2 separate regions of the Homo sapiens genome follow, and region 1 is linked to region 2. The links come from fine-mapping of genetic effects on gene expression. A gene starts in region 2. The other region holds a variant in brackets. All regions are shown on one strand. Distances are from middle to middle. Region 1 overlaps MYOM3 (myomesin 3). Region 2 holds the start of MYOM3 (myomesin 3).

What was found.
Region 1: its variant is fine-mapped to the expression of MYOM3 in unexposed skin (GTEx, PIP above 0.99). The same link has a PIP of 0.9 or more in sun-exposed skin.

What each region holds. Positions count from the first base shown.
Region 1 is chr1:24,084,179-24,095,766 of GRCh38, reverse strand. It overlaps MYOM3 (myomesin 3), which reads left to right. Exons shown (of 37, transcript NM_152372.4): 8 at 281-325; 9 at 777-914; 10 at 2,659-2,820; 11 at 3,452-3,593; 12 at 4,771-4,970; 13 at 5,649-5,702; 14 at 6,102-6,229; 15 at 8,940-9,123; 16 at 11,128-11,299. Among named protein-coding and RNA genes, the nearest start is that of MYOM3, 22 kb to the left of the region's middle. RefSeq lists an enhancer at 2,125-2,788. The variant A/G (reference allele first, on the strand shown) is at 5,629.
Region 2 is chr1:24,106,305-24,117,892 of GRCh38, reverse strand. MYOM3 (myomesin 3) reads left to right here and starts at 5,758. Exons shown (of 37, transcript NM_152372.4): 1 at 5,758-5,862; 2 at 9,239-9,417; 3 at 9,820-9,900; 4 at 10,661-10,820. The coding sequence starts at 9,257. RefSeq lists enhancers at 5,048-5,556, 10,245-10,785.

The sequences.
Region 1 (11,588 bases), 22 kb after region 2:
AGGAAACCAGCATGTATTGAGAACCTGCCATGTGTCAGGCTATGGCTGGTGGCTTGATTCATGTGAACCCGCTCGTTCCTTGCTCCAGGTAGGAATTACTGTCCCATTTTACTGCTGAAGAAACTGAGGCACAGAGAGGTAAAAGAACTTTCCCAAAGCCACAAGGGGAAGCCACCAACAGACCAGGACTCAAACTCATATCCAAAGCCCATGTCCCCAAAATAGCATAGGAATGTGGGCTCTGAACCTTCTCCAACTCTGTTTGCCTTTGGTTTTTCAGCTTACCTGGGGAAGGATGCTGGCTTCGATTCAGAGATCTTCAAAAGTAAGTCGGCTGGGGGAGAACGGGACCTGGGATTCTTTGTTCAGGCTTTGCTCCCCGACCCCCACAGTCCCTGTTTAGAATATAGCCATCCCCTGCCCATAAAAGGACGTCCACCGGGGTTTGTCTATGAGCTGGTAATACCTGCACCTGACTTCTAAAGGCCGCAGGGTACCCCAGAGCTGTCCCCAGCTGCTGAGCTGTTCTCTGACCTAAACTGGGTTTGAAAGGCAAAGCCAGAAAAACCAACGGACTTGGCCTTGGGATGTTTGCTCTTTGGCTGCTCTGACCACTACCTAGATAAGTCTCTTCCCCTCCTACCCCAAGGCCAGGTCCCCTTCTCCTAGTCAAGACCCAGAAGAGAAGGGATGCCCCAGAAATTTCCTCACTCCTAAGTCCCAGGCCAGGCTGGCTGCCTCAAAAACTTCTGCCCCAAATTTCATTCCCACGCCAGGATCGACGTTTGGCCCCAGCGTGGAATTCACCTCGGTGCTGAAGCCAGTCTTTGCTCGTGAGAAGGAACCCTTCTCCCTGTCATGCTTGTTTTCGGAAGATGTGTTAGATGCTGAGAGCATCCAGTGGTTCCGAGATGGTAAGGACCCCCAGTCCTGGCCCCCAGCCTCCAGAGCTGGCCCCTCCAAAGCTCAACTCAGAGCCAGAGAGGACCCCTAGCGGACAGAGACTCTCCCCAACCAGTACCAACTGTGCTAAAGTGCTGAAGAGGCAGAGGAGAGCGGGAGTGCAGCCAGGTGTGGTCAGATCATGCCACCCCATAAATGGCCACCAAGCATCTGTGGGGTGCCAGGCCCTGGGTTAGGGCTGGGGTAAATGGTAGGGGCAGATGTGCATGAGCCCAGGGGGCTGTGTCCACCTGGGAGGAGGGAGGAAGCCATCAGCACAATTGTAGCCGCTGGCACTGACCAGGCACCTGCTCAGCCATTTGCATGCATCATTACCTCCCTAAGAGTGAGGGAGGGAGGCCAGGCGTGGTGGCTCACACCTGTAATCCTAGCACTCTGGGAGGCTGAGGTGGGTGGATCACCTGAGGTCAAGAGTTCAGGTCTAGCCAACATGGCAAAACCCCATCTTTACTAAAAATACCAAAAATTAGCCAGGCATGTTGGTGGGTGCCTGTAATCTAGCTACTCGGGAGGCTGAGGCAGGAGAATCGCTTGAACCCAGGAGGCAGAGGTCGCAGTGAGCCGAGATGGCACCATTGCACTCCAGCCTGGGGGACAAGAGCAAGACTCCATCTCAAAAAAAAAAAAAAAAAAAAGTGAGTGAGGGCACTCAAAGCAATGGGAACAGAGCCCCAAGATCGGGAGGCAGGAGGGCACCACAAGTGCTCAGGGCAGGCTGCAACAGTTGCATCGGACTTTGCAGAGTCAGGGTGGTGGTGCAGATACAGTTGCTGACCCGTGGGCTGGGAGGCCTCTGGGGATGTCTCAGGCGAGGCCTTGAGAAGCCTGGTCAGAGCCAAGGCAGGAAGACGTGGCCCAGTGAGGGAGGAGGACGACGGCTGGACCTCCTACCCAATCCATGACTAGGCCTATAGCCTAAGGACCCAGAGTACAGTGCCCCTCTGGCACCCCCAGCTCTGAGCCCAGGGAGGCTGCACCTGCTGGGAGCAGGGAGTATGGGAGCCATCAGGATCCCTGACAGCTGCAATAACAAGGCTGAGACGTCTTCCCAAACGTGTAGATCTTCCAGAATGGAGGTGCTGAATGGAGGGCGGATCCTTCACATGGGGCAAAGAGAAGAGCTGGCCCCACAGTGTGGCCTCAAGGCAGGGCCCGCCCCTGAGCCCTGGACTCCACTTCTGAGTCCCCATCCACCTCCTAAGCTCCCATCCCGAGAGCCCTCACTCCCTTACCTGACCCCTGACCCCACGACACGTCCTCCACCCGCCTCACCGAGGCCCCAGCTCTCTCAGTGAGACCCAGGCCCTTTACTGAGCTCCCACCTCCCCCAAACGGGCCCTCCTTCTTTGAGTCCCCTGACCCCATACAGGGACCCATCTCTCTTGCTCCTACTCCCTCAGAGAACCTACAACTCCTCACCTTGTCACTGGCTATGTCCCTAAACCCTCACTCCCTCATTGAGCCCCAGCCCCGCACTGGCCCTTCCCTACTCCCCAAGCCCTCTGCAAAGGAGAGTTCTCCACTGCCTGCCTTGGCAAAGCCCTGGAGGCCACCACCCCCACCCAAGGCCTGAGCTGAGCCTCACCAGCCTCTCTCTCTGCCCAGCCAGGGTCTCCAGACCCCCCAGTTTCTGTGGTTCCCAGGTGAGACCAGGACCCCCCACAAACTCAATGGCCCCCCACTTCCCCTCCACAGGGAGCCTACTGAGGTCCTCGAGACGTCGGAAGATCCTCTACACAGACCGCCAGGCATCCCTGAAGGTGTCCTGCACCTACAAGGAGGACGAGGGGCTCTACATGGTCCGGGTGCCCTCGCCCTTCGGACCCCGGGAACAGAGCACCTACGTGCTTGTGAGAGGTGAGGGCATGGGTGGGCGCAGGGTAGCAGCAGGAGCCCAGAGACCAGGGCTCTGCCCCTTGTTTGCTGTGGAACCTTAGGCAAGGACCCTGCTCTCTTGGGGCCTCAATTTCTCTACCATAAAATCAGGGCTTTGGGTTGGGGTCTCCAAGACTCCCCGTGGCATCCTATGACCCTCCAAAGGGACATGGCCCGAGAGTTAGCCTGGCTGGAGCCAGGGAGGCTGGGAGCTGAGTGTGGGGCTGGAGTGATTCTGGCCACTGCTTAGGGCCTGGGTTCACATCCTGGCTTTGTCACTTCACCAGCTGGGTGACTTTGGGCAGGTCACTCACTCACCTCCAGGAGACTCAGTTTCCCCATCCAAAGAGGGGAAGGCTGCTCTGGGGCTGGAATTAATTATTCCACTTGTTCAGGTACTTGGTGTAAAATGGGCCCCCAAGAAATGGTACTGTCATCCTTCCCTCAGATACTGCTATGGGGGTAGTGGGACTAATATTCAGGCCCCAGTCCTCAAGATCAAAACTGAGCCCCTGGAGGATGGATGAGAAGAGGATGCTGGGCGGGAGTGGGAAGGGCCTGTCACCAAATGGCCACTGACTAGAAGGGCCTCCCTCTCACCCCCGGGTTTCAGATGCCGAGGCCGAGAACCCCGGGGCCCCAGGCTCCCCACTGAACGTCCGATGCCTGGATGTGAACAGAGACTGCCTCATCCTGACTTGGGCCCCGCCCAGTGACACCCGGGGCAACCCCATCACTGCCTACACCATTGAGCGGTGAGTCGACCTCGTGAGTGGCAGAGGCCCTAGGGGTAGAATTCTGTCTGGTGGTGGGAGCCACAGCAAAGAGGAGGCCCCATGTCTGACCTCAGAGAACCCTCACACCCCCGCTCCTCAGAAAAGGACAGGAGACAGGCTGTGCTGTGTCATTTAGGGGCAATGGAGGGGCATCCACACCTCCAAGTCTTTGTCATGCTGATAACTGGAATTCTATGCTGGAGTCGGCCACTGCCCTGTGGACCCTCTAGAGCTGACCCAGAGGGGCAAAACGGGGAGTGCTTGAACCCTGAGCACAGTGAATTCGTGGGCTAGTTTCCTTCCTAATGACAGAGAGAGATGGAATAGCACTGACCCCAAGGGAGGAGGCAAACAGGTAGAGAGGCCAGAACCTCCGGCCTTTTTCCAGTGTGGCCGGCTCTGAAGGCCCAGCTTGAGAAAATAGCTAATGCTGCCACGGACAGGCTCATGACCGTGCTAAGGGCATGCCTCATCTCTTTCCATCCTTCCAATGACCCGTCTCTAAAGGGGAGGGGGACTATCTAATGCCCTCTTCTATAGATGGGGAAACCAAAGTATGTGGGGAGATGACTTTGCTCAAAGACACATTTGTCATTAGTGGTGGAGACAAGACTTGGACCCACATGTGACGACTACCTCAACCAGCTGGTAACAATAAGGGTAACGTGCACTGTCGTACTGCCTGGAACAATGGTACCAAGAGGGTACAGAGAGCCCAGGCTTGGAGGGTCAACCTGGAATGCATGCCAACTTAGGGAGGGGACAAGCTCAGGTAAATCCTAACTGTGTGACCTTGGGCAGGTCTTGTCACTCTCTGAGCCACAGATCCTCCATGTGTGCAGTGAAGGTGACCACACGTGCCCCCTAGGACTGCCAGGGAGATAAAACGAGGGCTGGGTGTGGAGGGCACAGCACAGTCACAGGCTCACGATGATGCCCCATGAAAGGCACTGCTGCTGGTCAGTGTCAGGGATGGTGAAAAGGTCTCCCGGGGGCCCGAGGTTGGAGCCAGGCTCTTCCATTGGAGAGAAGAACTTTAATTGGCAGAGATGAGCTGGGCAGGCTCCCCCAGTCAGAGAAAGGCCCTTGTAGAGGCTCACATTGGGAAGGTGTGCATTGTGGGCAGGGGCTGAAAGGGGGGGCCTGTCTCCAACAGGTGCCAGGGCGAGTCTGGGGAATGGATCGCCTGCCATGAGGCCCCCGGAGGGACTTGTCGGTGCCCAATCCAAGGCCTCGTCGAAGGTCAGAGCTATCGGTTCCGGGTGAGAGCCATCAGCAGGGTAGGCAGCAGCGTCCCCTCCAAGGCCTCAGAGTTGGTTGTCATGGGTGACCATGATGCAGCCCGGAGGAAGACAGGTGGGTACAGAGGTCCTAAGCGACTTTCTAGAACATCAGTCAGGGAACCCTCAGGACTGTCTCACACAGGAGACAATCCAGCCCTCAGGAGCCCCGAGTCTGGTGGAGGAAGCACAGCCCAGCCCTCAGTAAACACTAGTCTGATGAAGGAGACAAAGGCCAGCCCTCGAGAACTTCCAGTCTGATGGAGGAGACACAATCCGGTCCTTAGGAACCCCTAGCCTGAGAAGGAAGATACAGCTAGTCTAATGGGAGAAACCAAACCTGTCCATGGGAGAGACCAGTCTGAGGGAGCACCCTACCCCAGCACCTGTCAGATGTCCTTAAGCTCGAGTGCGGGGACACGGCCTCCTCTCAGCCCTCGGGAGCCACGCTGACTTGGGTGTGCTAGAAGCTCCACCGTGGCAGGGTGCCCAGCGCCAGGCACCTCCCTCCTCCTCTCTGTCTCCACTTGTCCCAAGAGGAAGAGCATGTGCCAGGGCCTGAGAGCAGCAGGGCTCCACTTGGGACTCCTGAGAAAGCTGAGGCCAGAGGGAGGGCACCTGTCTGAGGTTGCACAGCGAGGGCTGCAAGGCCAGGACTGGGACGGGGCAGGACGCAGACCCTGGTGTGGGGTAGCTCCTGGCCTAACTCCTCCTGTGCCACCCCCCACCCTCCC[A/G]TGCTCCCTTCTCATCCTAGAGATCCCCTTTGATCTGGGAAACAAGATCACCATCAGCACAGACGCTTTTGAAGGTACGCGGGATCCTCCCACACACTGGGCCTCCTGTATAGTTCTCAAAACTCTGGGACATGAGCTGGCAAAGAGGCAGAAGCTGTCCCAGTGCAGGGTGTGGGGGATGAGGGCAGGTGGGGCCTAGTTGGAGGCAGTCAGAGTGCTGGGGTCACTGTGGCCCATCTGGCTGTGGCCCTCCTGGAGGAGGGAACACATTGGGAAAAGTCCTGGCCAGAGCAGTGGGAGACCTGGGTTCTAGCCCCGGCTCTGCCCAGCATTGCTGAGTGACCTGGAGCCAACTACTGCCCCTCTCTGGGGGATGGGTAGGGGTGTAGTTCCCTCTTCCATGGAATGAGGCACTGAGATTAGGGGGTCTCTGAGGGTCCAACCATCTCGGTCCCGGGTGACTCTGATTTCAGATACTGTGACCATCCCCTCACCGCCAACCAATGTCCATGCCAGCGAGATCCGAGAGGCCTATGTGGTTCTGGCCTGGGAGGAGCCCAGCCCCCGGGACAGAGCACCACTGACGTACTCCCTGGAGAAGGTAGGGAACCCCGAGGCCCCAGCCCCAGGCCAGCCTGAGAAACAGATGTGCTGTGGGACCCTGGGCAGTGTCCCCTGGGGAGGCCGTCAGAGAATGAAAGAGAATCCCCTGGCCAGAAGGGCCCAGGCATGGCCCTACACAGAGGCAAGGGGATGGATTGAATAGCCTTTTGCAGCTACCTCTAGCCCTGGAAGCCAGTCACTGCTGGTCGTTCCTGAGGCTGTTCGTGGAAATACACAAAATACAAGACACAGACAACAATGACAATACGATCCACCACTTCCTGGGTACCTCCCTGCCCCCAAGCCAGATGGCATCAGACCACACATTGGGGCCAAGCACTTCTTGGTGGGACTATGTTGGGAGGGAAACAAGGCTGGTACCCTCCAGCCAGGGACAGGCACCAGCAGCACTTGCAGAGCCTATGGTGTGATTAGCACTAGGAGGTGGCTCTCACTGGGGAGTGGGGGCAGGGGAGACCCCGGCGGGGATGAGGCAGGTCTTGTGGAGTGAACTTCACAGTGGAGGGGGGGCAGTATGGCAGAGTAGAAGACAGCATGGTGTCAAAATCTATTCAAATCCTTCCTTGTGCTGTGTGATCCTGAGTGAGTGTCCTAAACTCTCTGAGCCTCAGTTTCCTCCAGCATAGAATAGAGAACCTGCCCTGTGAAGATGAAATAAAACACAGCCCACAGCCAAAGCCAGCAACCCCTGGGATCTGTCAGTGCTTCCCAAGGAGGTGTTCTTGACTATCTCCCTGAAGTCAGAGACTAAGTTTATCTTCTCATTACTTTCTGTGCCCAGCACAATGCCTGGCACAAACTAGGTGGACAGAAAATGTTTAGGGAATAAATGAATTTAAAATTTCCAGGGAGGAATCTCTGGCTCTGATTATCCAAACAGGCCTCTCTTTTCACACTCATGGGTAATCCTTTTTCTCCGACATAGGAAAGCTGTAGATAATTGAGGATTTGTTTCACAAGGTGGTAGTGTATCATGGTGAAGATGTTGGCGTCAGACTGCTTGGGTTCAAATTCTATCTCTGCTACTTACCAGCTGCGTGACCTTGGGCAAGTTACTTAGTTTCTCTGTGCCTCTGTTTCTTCTTCCATAAAATGATAATAATCATACACAGCTTGTAGGGTTAATGTGAGGATCAAATTAATTAGCGCACATAAAGACTTAGAATGGAGCCTGGCACACAGTAGGAGCTCAGCAGTGTTCATGGTTTCTTATGGCAATTTCTTGTCCTACCTGGTCTAGGCCACTGACAGCCAGATGGGCTTGTGGGGGGAAAACCACAGAGCGTGGAATCAGTGGGTCCCCTTGTGCTTCTAGGTCTTAACTCTCTTGCCCAGACTCAGCAGAAAGGGTCTCTGGGTACCTCACTCATCTGTCTCACCCTGGGCTCTCCACCCTCCATCTGCCCAGAGACTCGGGGTTTCTGGCTGCCTTCTGGGTCCCTGATGCTGTGGAGAGTAAACAGGTTCGCAGCCAACCACACCTGAGTGAAGTTTAATACTATATCCACCAGTTATTAGATGCAGGACTTTTGGCCAAGTTACCGAAACTCTCTGAACCTGACTTTCCTCATCGGCAGAGAAATTAACACCTTCCTGCAGGGTTATTGTGAGAATTCATTCATTTGTTCATTCATTTGTCCCAGAAACATAGATGGAGCACCTGCTATGTGCCAGTCCTGTTCTTGGCCCTAGGGACACGGCAGTCAGGGGAGGGGGTGCCAATGATAAATGGAGTAAATCAGTAGAATATTAAGCACAGTAGTGAGTGGTAGGCGCTAAGGAGAAAGACATTGAGCAGGGAGGGGAACTTGAAGTGTGGGGAGAGGAGCTGCTGACATTTTTAGATGGAGTGGCTGGGATGGCCTCCCCACTGCCCAGGAAGGTGGATTTTTATTAAAGGCCTACAGGAAGCCAAGAGATTTCTCGGAGAAGAACATTCCAGGCTGAGGGACCAGCAAGTGCAAAGGCCCAGAGGTGGGACTTGGACCCTCAGGAAACAGCAGAGAGGCACAGAGACTAAGGGCAGAGGGAACGGTGGCCAGACAGGCCGAGGGGTCAGGCGATGGGGAAGCTTTTGCTCTGAGGGAGATGCGGGACGTGGGAGGGTTCTGGGCAGACAGGGACCTGGTCTGACACGTGCTATAAAAGGATCCCCCTGATGGCCATTTGAGACAAGACGGAAGGGGGTTATAGGTAGAAATGGAGGGGAGACCAGTCAAGAGGCCATTGAGATCGTTCAGGTGCGGGGTGCTGGCAGCCTGCATCAAGGTTATGGTGGGGAGCATGAGGACAATAAGGCATGGCTGGTTTCTGGGTAAATTTTGAAGGGTGAGCCAACTGGGTTCATTCATGGAGCACATTTAGGGCATGAGACAAAGAGAGGAAGGGCCAAGGGTGGCTCCAGGGGTTTCACCCGAGGGACTGGAAGGATGGGGGCCACCAGTGCAATGCAGGTGTGGGAAGCTCTGGAGCCGCGTTGTGGACAGGCTGGACGTGAGGTCTCGGTAGGAATCCGGGTGGAGAGGTGAGGAGGCAGATGGGGCAGAGCCCCATGCTCAGGGGCAGCCTGGGCTGAGTATAGAGGATCATGAGAGCACACGGGCTGGGGACAGAGATCATGGGAGGTGACCAGCACAGAGCCGGTCTGGGCGACCAGTTAGCCAATGTGAGTCCCTCTGTTTCTTCAGTCAGTCATAGGTAGTGGCACCTGGGAGGCCATCAGCTCGGAAAGCCCTGTGAGATCCCCGAGATTCGCCGTTCTGGACCTGGAGAAAAAGAAGTCGTATGTCTTCAGAGTGCGAGCAATGAACCAGTATGGCCTGAGCGATCCCTCGGAGCCCAGCGAACCCATCGCCTTGCGGGGCCCGCCAGGTACCCTCCTGATGCCGGGGGTCGGGGAGGAGGCAGGCCAGGCCAGGCTCAGGACCTGAAGCTGCAGGGACAAAGCCCTGCCCACTTCCCTGTCCCCGCTCCCTTCTACCCATCATGAAGCTGAAAAGCAATTTGATCTCAGGCCTGGGGAGTTTTAAGACATCAGAAATCACATTTCTCTGGGCAGAAGGCTCATGGAGGGAGAGAGCCTTCTGCCTTTTTCCAGATCAGCAATGCATGGGTTAGAGTGCACAGCTGGGCCCTGCACAGCAGCTGTGCAAGCAACTGGTCCCTCCGTTCCACAGGTCTCTGGCCTGCCCCTAGATCCTGCAGCTCACTCCCAAGCAGCCCCCTGCTCCTTGTCTGGTGGGGGTTGAGCTGTCCCACCTGAGCCCTGGCTTACCAGGCAGGACACCACTCACCTGCAGCATAACGGGGGACCTGGGAGAGTCATTTCCAAGCTGCACACCTTGCTGTCCTCAACTGGCAAACCCATTGTTCTAAAGGGCCCCATCACTGCTCCCACCTCTGGCTCCTTCCTGAGTCTCCCAACTGCAACTGCATCCTGACCCCAGCTTCCCAGGGCTCCCACCTCTGAGGCCTCTGGATTCTGAGGTTCTTTACCCTCTCATCAGATTCCCCGTAGCTGCCATCACAATCAGCCCTTTAAGGAACCTTGCTACAGTACCACCTATGCAAGAAAAGCCTGGTTTGCTGAAGGTCCCATTTGGGGAAGATTTCAAAGTTCTAGATTTGTTCTGCTTCAATAATTTAGAGGGGAAAAAATACACACGCGCACACACACACACACATACACACACGGCACATATGAACAAGTTGGTGAGCAAGTGGTGCTTTTCTTTACTTCTGGTTAACATTTGGATTTGATTTGGGGCCTGGCCAGTGAGCAATTAGTCATCAGATGTGGGCAGTCTCTGGACCATAAACCACACTTAAATTGTACCAGGCAAGGCTCTGGTATAATTCAGAAAGGAAGGGAGGGCAGGGCTAGAGGTGAAGCCTTCAAACAGGTGAGGGATGAAGACCTGGGATAGGCAGGACCCTTAGGAATAAGAAGAGAGGAGAAAAAGTGGAGCAGGTCAAGGAACAGAAGCTTGGATGAGTCCAACGTTTGGGGGCCAAAAGAAAATAGAGAACAACCAAAGGATGTGTAAGGAGTTTAGAAATAAAAAGAGAACTAGGAAGATCATGCACCTGCCATCCATCAGTCCATCCATGCATCTGCCCATCAGTCCATCTATCCATCTATTCATCCATCTATCCATCCATCTATCCATTTATTCATCCATGTATCCACCTGTCCATCCATCCATCCATCCATCCATCCATCCATCCATCCATCTATCCATCCATCCATGCATCCATTTATTCATCCATGAATCCACCTGTCCATCCATCCATCCATTCATCCATCCATCTATCCATCCATCCATCCATCCATTTATTCATCCATGTATCCACCTGTCCATGCATCCATCTGTCCATCCATCCATCCATCCATCCATCCATCCATTCATCCAACCAACCATCCATCCATCCATTCATTCAACCAACCATCCATCCATCCATTTAACAAGTTACAGCAGCCCCTATCTCAAAAAGCTTAGTTTCAGGGAGCCATGAAAATCAGTAGAGAAATTTCAAGGAAAGAAAACTGAGATTAAAGATAAGGACTGAGGAAACCTATCAGATTTGGTGACTTTTGAGTGAGAGAGAGTGTGTGTGTGTAAGGATGAATGAGTGAGTATGCTTTTGTGCTTTAGTGAGGAAGCAGAGATGCTCAGAGGTAAGGGGAGAGAGGACTTTTAGGATACACTTCTGGGCCTAGGGAAGAGGTCCCAAAGCCCCCAGCAGGTCAGGAATTCATGCACCTTGATTGCTGTGGGAGCTCCTTCTGGCCTCTCCCCATGCTCCTCCCCTTCCCCAGCCTGTCAGACCCATGTAACTCAGCCTTCTCATTCAGCCCATGTTTCTATTTTTTAGCTACCCTCCCTCCTCCAGCTCAAGTTCAAGCTTTCAGAGACACACAGACCTCTGTCTCCCTGACATGGGATCCTGTGAAAGACCCAGAGCTCCTGGGTTATTACATCTACTCCCGGAAGGTGGGGACATCTGAGTGGCAAACAGTTAACAACAAACCCATCCAAGGCACCAGGTACGTCTGCCCACCCGTATCAGTCTGTTCTCACACTGCTATAAAGACATACCTGAGACTGGGTAATTTCTTTTATAAAGAAAAGAGGTTTAATCAGCTCACAGTTCTGCGACCTATACAGGCTTCTTTTTCTGGGGAGGCCTCAGGAAACTTATGATTATGGCGGAAGGCGAGGGGGAAGGAAGCATGTCTTACATGGCGGGAGCAGGAGAGGGAGAAAGAGCAAAGCAGGAAGTGCTACACACTTCCAAACAAGCAGATCTCATGAGAACTTGCTCCCTATCTTGAC
Region 2 (11,588 bases):
TGACCCCTGAGGTCCCATGCCTCCCAGGCAGCCCAGGCCTGCAGATAGAGCTGGAACCAGCCAGAAGGCAGAGCGTCCGCATACCCTGGAGCTGGCTGGGGACCTCATCGTTCCTGAGAGTCCTGGGTCCGATCCCATTTCCAGGAATCTCCACAGCCCCACCCTGCCCAGCAAGAGAGGTGATTCTCCAAGTTTTCACTTGCCTACAAGGTATGGCACAGTCAAGCCCAGGAATAAATGACTAGTAATATAATAGTAGCAGTAGTCAAAGTCATATGAAAGAGAAGAAGTCAACCGTGTTGCTTGGCCGTTATGTACTTGATCATTCATCCTCCTGGTACCCTTCTCTCCATGATAGGTTGTATTATTGATATTTCGCAAAGGAGGAAAATGTGTCTCAGAGAGATTACTTGCCCTAGTTCATGAAAATACTCTGGGAAGCTTACTAAAAATACAGCTTCCCCAAGCCCACCCCAGACCTGCTAAACTCACAGTTTCTAGGAATCTGGTTGTTTGTTTTTGAGACAGAGCCTCACTTTGTTACCCAGGCTGGATTGCAGTAGCATGATCACAGCTCACTGCAGCCTCCACCTCCCTGGCTCAGGTGATCCTCTCACCTCAGCCTCCCAAGTAGCTGGGACTACAAACACCCACCGCCATGCCTGCTAACTTTTGTATTTTTTGTATTTTTGTCAACAGGTTTCACCCTGTTGACCAGGCTAGCCTCAAACTCCTGGACCCAAGTGATCCTCCACCTTGGCCTCCCAAAGTGCTGGGGGGTATCTGCATTTTTCATAAACTTCTTTGGTGATTCCTCTGAAGCAAGTTGAGGGAACAGTGCCGTTACACCATCACTTTCTCTCTCCATAGCCTCAAATCAGCGCCCTAGAGGGACCCCCATTACACCCGCTGTTGCAACAGAGTTGAGGGTGGGGGTACTGCATGGCTGTGATGCCTGCAAACCTCTGACCTCCCAAGCTCCCGACTCTAGGAACATACAGGGCTTGCCTGAGTTTCCACCCAGAGAATTGGACCAGCAGGACTGGAGCTCCTCCAGATTTCCAGACAGCCAGAGCCTCTGTCCCTCCCAAGTCTGAGTGTCAACCTGGACAGGGAGACTATGGCCTGATGTCACCAATGCTTGTCCCCTGTCGCTGTCCCCACCTGCATTCCAGACCATGGGACAGAAACAATAAGCTGAGGCAGGTATTGCCAGAGAGATGGAGGCAGCCCCCACCTCCCCTGCTGGTGCTGACGCTGATGAGACAACTCTGAGACCCCAGAGCTGCTGCTCAGCTCCTTTGGCTACTTGAGCCCATTTTTCCTTCCCACTCTAAGGAGGAAGGGGGAGTAAGGAAGATATGCTTTGGCCAGTCCGTATGAGAAGAACAGCAGTTGCAATTAACTGGACTCCGAGAGCGACAGGGAGGGACGGGAGACTGAAGCAGGTACAGTGTCGCCACACAGGGGGAGAAAGCCACAGGCTTGGTTGCTGTCGGAGAAACAGCATGGAGGTTCAGAGCAGTCAGTTTGTTCTTAATGGTCATAAGTCCAGGGAAGGGAATAAAAGAGAAAAGAAGGCAAGGGGAGAAAGAAGAAAGATAAGCCAGGTACTATAGTAGGTATTTTACACATTTAACCTTATCTGAGTCTCCCAGCCATTCTGCAAGATAGGCAATTGCTATAGTCTGAATGTTGGAGTCCCCCCAAAATTCATATGTTGAAACTTCATGTAATAGTAGCAAGAGGTGAGCCCTTTGGAAGGCCATGAAGGCTATGCCCTCAATAATGGGATCAAGAGGCCAGCATGGTGGTGATTCAAGCCAGTAATCCCAGCACTTTGGGAGGCCAAGGTGGGAAGATCCCTTGAGGCCAGGAGTTTGAGACCAGCCCGGGCATCACAGTGAGACCCTGTCTCTACAAAAAACGCAAAAATTAGCCTGGTGTGGTGGTGCGTGCCTATAGTCCCAGCTACTCAGGAGGCTGAGGTAGGAGGATCACTTAAGCCCAAGAGGTTGAGGCTGCAGTGAGCCATGACTGCACCACTGCACTCCAGTCTGGGCAACAGAGCAAGATCCTGTCTCGGGGAAAAAAATAAAAATGGAATGGGATTAATGCCCTTATAAAAGAGGTTGAAGAGAGTGCCCTAGCCCCTTCCACCACATGAGGACTCCACAAGAGGCACCATCTATGATGCAGAGAGCAGGTCCTCACCAGACACTGAATCTGCTAGCACGTTGATCTTGAACTTCTTGGTCTCCAGAACCGTAAGAAATAAACTTTTGTTATTTATAAATGACCCTGTCTAATGTATTTTGTTGTAGCAGCTCAAACGAACTAAGACAGTAACCATTCACTGATTCATTTTTCTTTTTTTTTTTTTTTTTTGAGACGGAGTCTCTCTCTGGTCTCCCAGACTGGAGTGCAGTGGCGCCATCTCAGCTCACTGCAAGCTCTGCCTCCCGGGTTCACCCCATTCTCCTAACTCAGCCTCCTGAGTAGCTGGGACTACAGGAGCCCACCACCACGACCTGCTAATTTTTTGTATTTTTAGTAGAGACAGGGTTTCACCTTGTTAGCCAGGATGGTCTCGATTTCCTGACCTCATGATCCACCTGCCTCGGCCTCCCAAAGTGCTCGGATTACAGGCGTGAGCCACTGCGCCCAGCCCACTGATTCATTTGTAAATAAATGTGAATTGAGGGCCAGGTGTATGCCAAGCACTGTTCTCGGGGGTAGGGATATGGTCAGGCAGGCAAGTTCTCTGCTATCTTGGAATGTGTCCTCCACCTACAGAGAAAGAAACTGAGGCCCAGAAAGGAGGCCAAGGTCCCCCTGTTAGTGACTGAGGCACCAGAGGTTGGGATTTAAACCAAGGCTTGTATAACATCAAGTCATCTAATCTCTCTGCTCAGCCGCATGACCTTAGGCTTGGCCATGTTTACAGAGGTTCCAGTGATGACTGAGTGCTTCACTGGGGTGAGGTCAACAAAGGGATACATGGGAATCCCACCCCCAGAAGCATGGGGTAAGAGAAAGCCATCAGCATTCCTAGAGCTTTCATTTAGCAAACGTCTGTCCGGGGCCAGACGCCGTGCTGGAGGTTTCACGGTTCTTGGTTGAACATTTTCTTTTCTTTTCTTTTCTATTCTTTTTTTTTTTCTTTTCTTTTTGAGACAAAGTTTCACTCCTGTCACCCAGGCTGGAGTGCAATGGCGCCATCTCAGCTCACTGCAACGTCCACCTCCTGGGTTCAAGCAATTCTCCTGCCTCAGCCTCCCAAGCAGCTGGGATTACAGGCGCGCCCCCACCACACCCAGCTAATTTTTGTATTTTTAGTAGAGACGGGGTTTCACCATGTTGGCCAGGCTGGTCACGAACTCCTGACCTCAGGTGATCCACCCGCCTCGGCCTCCCAAAGTGATGGGATTACAGGTGTGAGCCACCATGCCCAGCCTGATTGAACATTTTCAATGAGACAGCTAAGTGGAAATTGTTGTCTTCAACTGTACAGATAATCAAACCACACTGGCTGAGTGCCTTCCCCAAGGTCATCCAGCTAATAAGTGGTGGGACTGAATTGAAAGCCTAAGCCGGTTTGACTCCAGGATGCACCCTGTCTCTCCAGTGCACCTTCATTCATCTCCCCAGATTGCCTTGGGAGGACGGGGCTAGAGGACCTGTTTAAATGACTGTCTCCTGCTCAGTTGGAAGCTCAAAGCCCTCTTTGCTGTTCGTACGGATTCACTCACACTCATCCCTCACAGCAAATGTATGAAGATGAGTCTTGGAAAGCCCTTGTTCGATTGGGTCAATAGAAGATGGGAGAGAAATGTTCTCTCCCAAAAGATGCTGTAAGAGAGAGCCACAGAAGAGCTTAGAAAGGGGTTTTCAAATAGGGCAGGGGATTCAGATTTTGCCTGCAAAGTTCACTTGTGCTCTCTCTCTCCTTCTCTCGAGTGAGGAGTCCCTGAGGCACCAGCAAGAGTGACAGGTGTAGTGTGGGTGGCCACCTGAGGTCGCAGGAAGGGGTGAGGGAGGGAAGCTGTGCTCTCTGGCTAGGGGCCGGTACAGCCTTCCCCTCACCGGCTCATCCTCTGAGACTCGACCCAGGTGCACCTTCCTGATCACCTCCTGTCGTAAGTGCCTGACTTCCCCTGTAGGTTAGGGTCTGGCATAGGGTAGGTGCCAATGAATGTGAGGGGGAAAGAATTGAGACTGAGGGAATGGCAGGAGAGGGCAAAGGGTGGGAAGAGGTGTGGTGCCGAACACCTATTAACCTCAGTAGGGAAGGCACCAGGTTTGAGAGGCCAAAGAAAAGATCCATAGCCAGCAAACGGAACATGGGGGTTTCAGGAGGCGGAGGTTGCAGTGAGCTGAGATCATGCCACTGCACTCCAGCCTGGACAACAAAGTGAGACTCTGACTCAAGAAGGAAAGAAAGAAGGAAAGAAGGAAAGAAAGAAAGAAAGAAAGAGAGAGAGAAGGAAGGAAGGAAGGAAGGAGGGGGGGAGGGAAAGAAGGAAAGAAGGAAGGAAGGAAGGAAAGAGAAAGAAGAAAGAAAGAAAGAAAGAAAGAAAGAAAGAAAGAAAGAAAGAAAGAAAGAAAGAAAGAAAGAAAGAAAGAAAGAAAAAGAAAGGGAGAGAAGGAAGGGAAGGAAGGAAAGGAAGGAACGTGGGGGTTTGTTAGGGGCTTGCCTACAGGAGAGAGAGTCCACTGGTGATGAACTGGACAGGAGAACCGCCTTACATACAGAAATGGTCCAGGGGCGGCGGGCTGGACAACATACCAGTGGCGGCCGACTGGGCAGGAAAACCTCAGCCCCTTGCAAACAGCATGCAGTTTATAGAGCATTTTCACTTTACACCATCCCCTAATGACCTCCACCTGGCAATCTTCATTTAACCCAAAACTCAGGGCCTCAATCCCCTGTATGGCCAGCGTTCCACCAGAAGGGACGGGACGGGGGCTCAGATATTCATCGTAGGTAAGAAACGGGTTGGCTACTCCCCAGATTCCTTAGCTCGGAACACATATTCAGGTCTTCCACACAGGGTCATTCTTGGAGCGTGCTTCAGTTATCCCTGTCAGGTGCGTTTACCCTATAAGAAGGCCCTTCAGGGGACACTCTGGCAGCCTGAGCAGTTTGCACAGTGAAGCAGTAGGTGGCTCCCCAGCTCCTCCTGCCTGCACCACACCACACACACATGACTGTGGTCAGGGCGGGGGCCGTGTAGTAACTACCGGAGTGGTGGAGGGACCAGGAGCCACACATTGCTGTTTTAGCCAGTGACAACTTCTGAGCACGAAACACTCACTTTTAGGTCATATTCCTTCCACCGTCTTCATGAAGTCCAGGTGCCCAGTCTCACTGTCTCCGTTTTTCAGAAGGCAGTCAGTTCAGGGAAGCTGAGCGCCTTCCCCAGGGCACCCAGTCAGCCGGGGCAGAATTCAGATCAGAACTCCCGACAGCTGAGAACGCCGCACGGGATCTGCCCTCCATACGACCATGCCTGAGCCGTTCCCTCCTTTCCATTTTAACAGGGGCTTGGGTTGGGCAGAAAGGACCCAGCTGAGAGGAGGAGCAGTGTGGGGGGACGCGGCGGACAGCTCCACCTGTCGCTGCTGCCCAGCAGGCTGGAGACACGGAATGGCCCCTCCCCTTGGCCCCCTGTCCCCGATGCCATAGTTCTCATCCATTGTCATTGTACTGTCTCAGTGCTGCTATATTTAAGACGGTGCAGTCTCCGGGATCGCATTCTTCTCCCGGTGCCCGCTGAGCCGAGGGCAAGAAGAGAACAAGGACCCTCTCGGCCTCAGGAATCTTCTCCCCAGAGACTCCTAAGTGGGCACACTGCTTCTGTGAGTCACCCCCAGAAATCAGGGTGGGGGAGGGATGCCTCCTAAGAGTCAGCCACTGGGGAGTGATATCTGTGGGTGCATGTGTGTGTGTGTGTGCACGTGTGTGTGTTTGTGTGTATGTGTGTTGTGTGTTGTGAAAGGAGCCTGGGAAATTTGTGCTGAGGCAGCACCCAAGTGAAAATGGGAGGGGATTCCAGAAACCCCTGCCCCATCCCACTGTTCTGTGTGGCCCTGGGTCTTCTGAGAGCTGAGCTGTCTGTGATGTGAAAGTTGCAAAAAAAAAAAAAAGAGTGGGGGCTGCCCTGGGAACTGGAGTCTTTCCTGTGATGGAGCAGCGATAAGCGGGAGCCAGGCTAAGCTGGCAAGTTCCACGAACTTAGAGCGGAGCTGGCTGAGCCCGGCTTGGCCAACCCCACAGGCAGGGAAAGAGAGCGAGCCCTCGGATCCCAAATCTTAGAGCTGGAAGGGATTTCATCCAGTGCCTGACAGGAAACCGAGGCCCAGACGGGAAAGGAGTTGCCTCAGCTCATGACTGGCAAGGGCAGGATTCGGCCTCGCGGAAGCTGGTGGAGCCACTGGCTAAGAACACGTCCCAGCCTGTGCCACCCGCCGCCCGCAGGATGTGTCTCTGCTCCCAGCCACCATCCGCCCCCATCGCAGCTCCTGGAGGGGTCTTGGCTCAACTGCTGTGCATTCCTCTTTCCCTCCTGAAGAAGGGGAGAGGCCTCCTCGGCAGATGGAGGCTTGGGAGGAAAGCAGAGGGGAATAGGGAAGGCCACGCAGTGGGACCTCTGGCCCAGATTTTTGCACCCCAAGAGAGGGAAGCGGGGGCAGTTTCCCCTCCACGCAGGCACACACAGTGTTCCGGGAAGAGGCACCCTGGTCCTTTGGGAAAGGGCAGTGAGGCCGCAAACTTGTCCCTGCTTAATACCACGCATCAGTCAGTGCTTTAAAAAGAATTGGTAGCTCATCCGCTAAAGCCAGGGGTCTGGTTGCTGGAGGCCCCGAGGTCAGGGACGAGCGCCAGGCCCCTGCCTGCTGTGCTAATCGGGAACAGAGCATCCAGGGGAAGGGAGCCAGTGGCTGGTGCCAGGGAATGTTAACTCTCAGCCACTGGAGCCAGGGCCATCGTGTCCCAGGAAAGCTGGGGCAGAGTGGGGGGTCCTTGCTCCACCTAGGGTGGTACCCAGCAGCTCTCCTCCTGGGCCATGAGGAAGAAAGAGCAGAATGAGCAGGGCTAGCCACTTCTTTGGGTGCAAAGAGAACTTCTTCCATCGGGAGGGAGTGATACGAAGCCAAAGAGGGTGACTGTCCCATTATGTCATTTGAGATGATTAGCAGGAGCCCAGGGAGCTTTAGGGGGCAGCCCTTGGTCCCAGCTAACCCTGCAGCCATCCATTCTCTTTTTCCTGATGCCCACAACTGCAGACACCCAAAAGGAGCAAACTTCTAGGAAGTAGAAGGGGTAAAAGCCCACTAAGACTGACCCTCCACAGCCCGAGCCCCAGACACCTCCACCACATGCCCCTTCCAGGCCAACGGCTCTCCAATAAAGCCAGTGGGCTCACCTTCCATGCCATGGACTTAGAGAAATGGTCACCTAGGTGCTGTGTTCACATCCAGGCAGAAGACAGCCTACACATGCACGCACACACACACATACACACACATGCACGCCCACACACACACACGCTGCCACCTCCAGCAGGACCCTCTAGAGAGGCAGGGGCCAGACAGAGCTGACCCCACAGAAGCTGACAGGAGCAGGCCAAGGCAGGCGGTCATCCCTCTTCTGTTTCCATCCCCACGCCTGGGCAGGAACCCTCCCATGCCAGAAGCCTGCAGACCAGGATTCCCACCTGGAGGAGGTGTGAAAGCCATTCCAGGGATTTTAGCTTTAGCATCAGGGGGGCCCTCAGAGACCCAGCAGTGACTGAAGCCCGGATATGAGAAAACTCAGTGCAAAAACCCACAGCCAGCGGGCACACGGGCCTCCCACACCCCTCGTTTGCCTCTCCATATCCATGGATCCGCTTCCTGAGCCTCCCCTGGGTCAATCTGATCCGGCCCCACTGGGCGCCATCACGGGCCTAGACTTGAGCCTTGGGAATGCAAAGGAGATGTGTACATTGCAATCCCCTTATAAGGAGAAAGGCCCTGTGGCCCACCGTGTCCCCAGCCTCTGCCACGGCCTGGCCTTGAATGGACATATGACATAGAGATCAGAAGGGCTAGGGGTTGGGCTAGGGATTGGCTGCCAGTCATGGCCCCACCATCATGCTGGGTGACCTTGAGCAAGTACTGCCCCTGTTCATCAGTAAAATGGGATAATAATGGTGCTGTCCTCATTTGGGTTATTGCAGGGACTGGGGATAATGCATTTGAAAACTAACATGGGCATGGAACATAGTAAGTTCTCACTATTGTTACTTTTAATTCACTTACAGTCTTGTTGAACAGTCAAGATGCACAGATACAAAATAATTACATAGAGAAAGCATTGTCTGAATCAATGCTAAATTGTGGAGTGCTAGAAAATAAGTACAAAAGAAATGAGAAGAGGGAAAATTCTAGGTGGCCTGTAGTCTTTCTGCAAGGCTTCTTAGAAAAATAATGCTAATGCCTAATACTTATGTTGTACTTACTAAGCCCCAAGCACTCATCTAACCTTCACAACTACCCTGGGAGGTTAGTAGACCCATTTTACAGATGAGGAAACAAAGTCATGAGTCTTTCCCAAGGTTACACACTTGAAAGCTGGGATAAGGAGCTGGGATCACACCCTGTGGGCTGGACTCAGAGTCTCTCTGCTAATTAGCATGCCCTCAGTTGGGGTTTGAAGCATGACTAGAGCCAAGCGGGCCAGGAGGAGGGGAAGGGTGTGCCGGGAGAGGAAACCAGCGTGGGCAAAGGCCCAGAGGTAGGACTGAACATGGCCGGTGCAGGAAGAATGGGGACGCCTGCCCGTCCTGAGTCATAGACACAGCCGTGGACATCACAGTTTCAATTACTCATTGTCTGGGGAGCTGAGGCCCATAGAAGCGAAAACCTTGCCACAGATCATACAGTGAGACAAGGGCTGGGCTGCAGCTGGAAGCAGCTAGAAGCCAGGGCCCTGCTCCCTAACGTGGGGGCTCTGCTCACTCAGCTGGGGAGCACATGGGGTGGAGGAGAAGCCTGGCTCAGAGCCCAAGGCCTGCCTCTGTCACCTTGGGCAGGTCCCTCTCCCTCTCAGACCTCAGTTTCCCTGTCTGCCGACTGCAGAGAGGACACCCCCACCCCCCATCCTGCCAGCCTCCTAGAGATGTTGGGAAGACTGCATGGGAGGGGATAGGCGGGCACCTGGTGGAATGACCGTGGACCTTGGCCTTCACAGGTTGTTGCTCTCGTAACCATGACTCTGCCGCACAGCTTGGGAGGTGCGGGGGACCCCCGGCCCCCCCAGGCCATGGAGGTTCACAGGCTGGAGCACCGGCAGGAGGAGGAGCAGAAGGAGGAGCGGCAGCACAGCCTGCGCATGGGCTCCTCTGTGCGGAGGCGGACCTTCCGCAGCAGGTGGGAGCCACAGGGTCCCCGCCCAGCCACTGCCCTGTTCCCAGGGCCCCCAGTCTGAGGAGGGAGGCCCAGCCTAGCCCTCTGGAGGCTCCAACCTGATGGGGGGAGGGACATCCCTGCTTTCTGAACCCCCTGTCTGAGGGGGGAGACACAATTGGCTCTCTGGAGACCCCCATGTGATGGAAGAGGCACAGCCCTGTCCTCTGGAAACCCTGTTTGAGGAGGGAAGCACATTCAGGGTCGGGGGGATGCAGCCTTGCTTTCTGAGACCCCAGTATGAGGAGGGAGGCACAGCCCTGCCTGCTGGTGCCCTGAGGCTGAGGTGGGCAGATGCAGCCCTAATCTCAGGGAGCCCCCAGCCAATCCTGCAAGAGCCATTTACTCCCCTCCTTCTGGGAGCAGCGAAGAAGAGCATGAGTTCAGCGCCGCGGACTACGCCCTGGCAGCAGCCCTGGCTCTGACGGCCTCCTCCGAGCTGTCTTGGTGAGTCAGAGAAGCTTCCCAGGGAGCCGTGGCTGAGGAGGGGCCATCCTGTCCAGTCCCCGGCCTCCCTGCTGGCCTTTCACCCCGAGTGTAAAGAACCTGCCCAAAATCCCACATCTAGAATAAGGGTCTAGACAGGAGTTTAAGCCCAGGGCTACCTGCCCTCAAAGCCCACATGCCACCCTCTGGAAGGGTGCACGTGTCATAGCGGGGGACTGTTCCCAAGGAAGAGGGTAGGGGCCTACTTCACCAACAGACTTCTGGGCTTCACGTGGTGGGGGAGGGGGCTAAGAATGGGACAGAAGGAGCAAGTAAACCAGGCCCCAGTTTCCCACAAGGCCAGAGACTGAGGAGGCCTCTGAGTGTGCCGGCGTGGAGAGGCAGCGTTCGGCTTGGGGCAGGGCCCTGGGCTAGGAGGCTTGGGTGGTGGTCCTGGCTGACCTGAAGCAAGTTGCTAAGCCTCAGTCCCTGCCCTATAAAATAGGGACACTAAGGCCTGGCCACTTGGCTGTCGTGAAAACAAGATGAACAAAGGTTTGTGAAAGAGCCTTGAAAACAATGAAAACAGTCAACTATTAAGGACTGACTGCAAGCAGGGCCCTTCCAGGCTGTTTTGGAGGCAAGGGAAGATGCAAAATCATGCATGTCCTCCAAAAGTTTAAAGCATCCTGGCACTGCTGGGCACAGGGAATGGAACTGGCCAGGATGCCCCAGGCATCCCCCATCCCTGCCTGAGCCCCGATGGCCTCTGTCACGGCAGGGAAGCCCAGCTGAGACGCCAGACCTCTGCCGTGGAGCTGGAGGAGCGAGGGCAGAAGCGGGTGGGCTTCGGCAATGACTGGGAGAGGACTGAGATCGCCTTCCTGCAGACCCACCGGCTGCTGCGCCAGAGGCGGGACTGGAAGACGCTGAGGCGGCGGGTAAGGGGGTGGGCCGTGGAGCCCCAGGGCCTGGGACCTGCGACGCACCACTTGCTGCCATCCTCACCCCCTTCCCAAGAGGCGGGACATCCAGGGCAGAGTCCAGGCTTTGGGTCTGCATCTGATGCCCCTACATTCCAGTGGTGTGACCCCGGGCAAGCGCATCCCTGTTACTGAGCCTCAGTGTTCTCATCTGTAAAATTGGGCTGGGCGCAGTGGCTCACGCCTGTAACCCCAGCACTTTGGGAGGCCGAGGTAGGCGGATCACCTGAGGTCAGGAGTTCGAGACCAGCCTGGCCAACATGGTGAAACCCTGTATCTACTAAAAATACAAAAATTACCTGGGCCTGTAATCCCAGCTACTCGGGAGGCTGAGGCAGGAGAATCGCTTGAACCCAAGAGGCAGAGGTTTCAGTGATCCAAGATCACACTACTGCACTCCAGCCTGGGCTACAGAGTGAGACTCCACCTTAAAAAATAATAATAATAAAAATAAAGTAAAATAGACGTCATTGTAAAAATTCTCAGTGCTGAGGTGGGATTTAAAGGAGACTGGGTTTGGAAAGTGACTTTCCCATTGCCTAGAACACAGAAGACCCTCAGGAAACGCTAGCCCTGATGAGTATCAGGATTTGAGCCACTCTCCACACTCCCTCCCCAGCTTCCACTTACACAGGCTTTCTCAGTGCCGTGTCTTTCACCCCCACACCCCCACAGTGGGTGAGGGATTTTGTTATCATCTCTATTTTACCAATAAGGACACTGAGG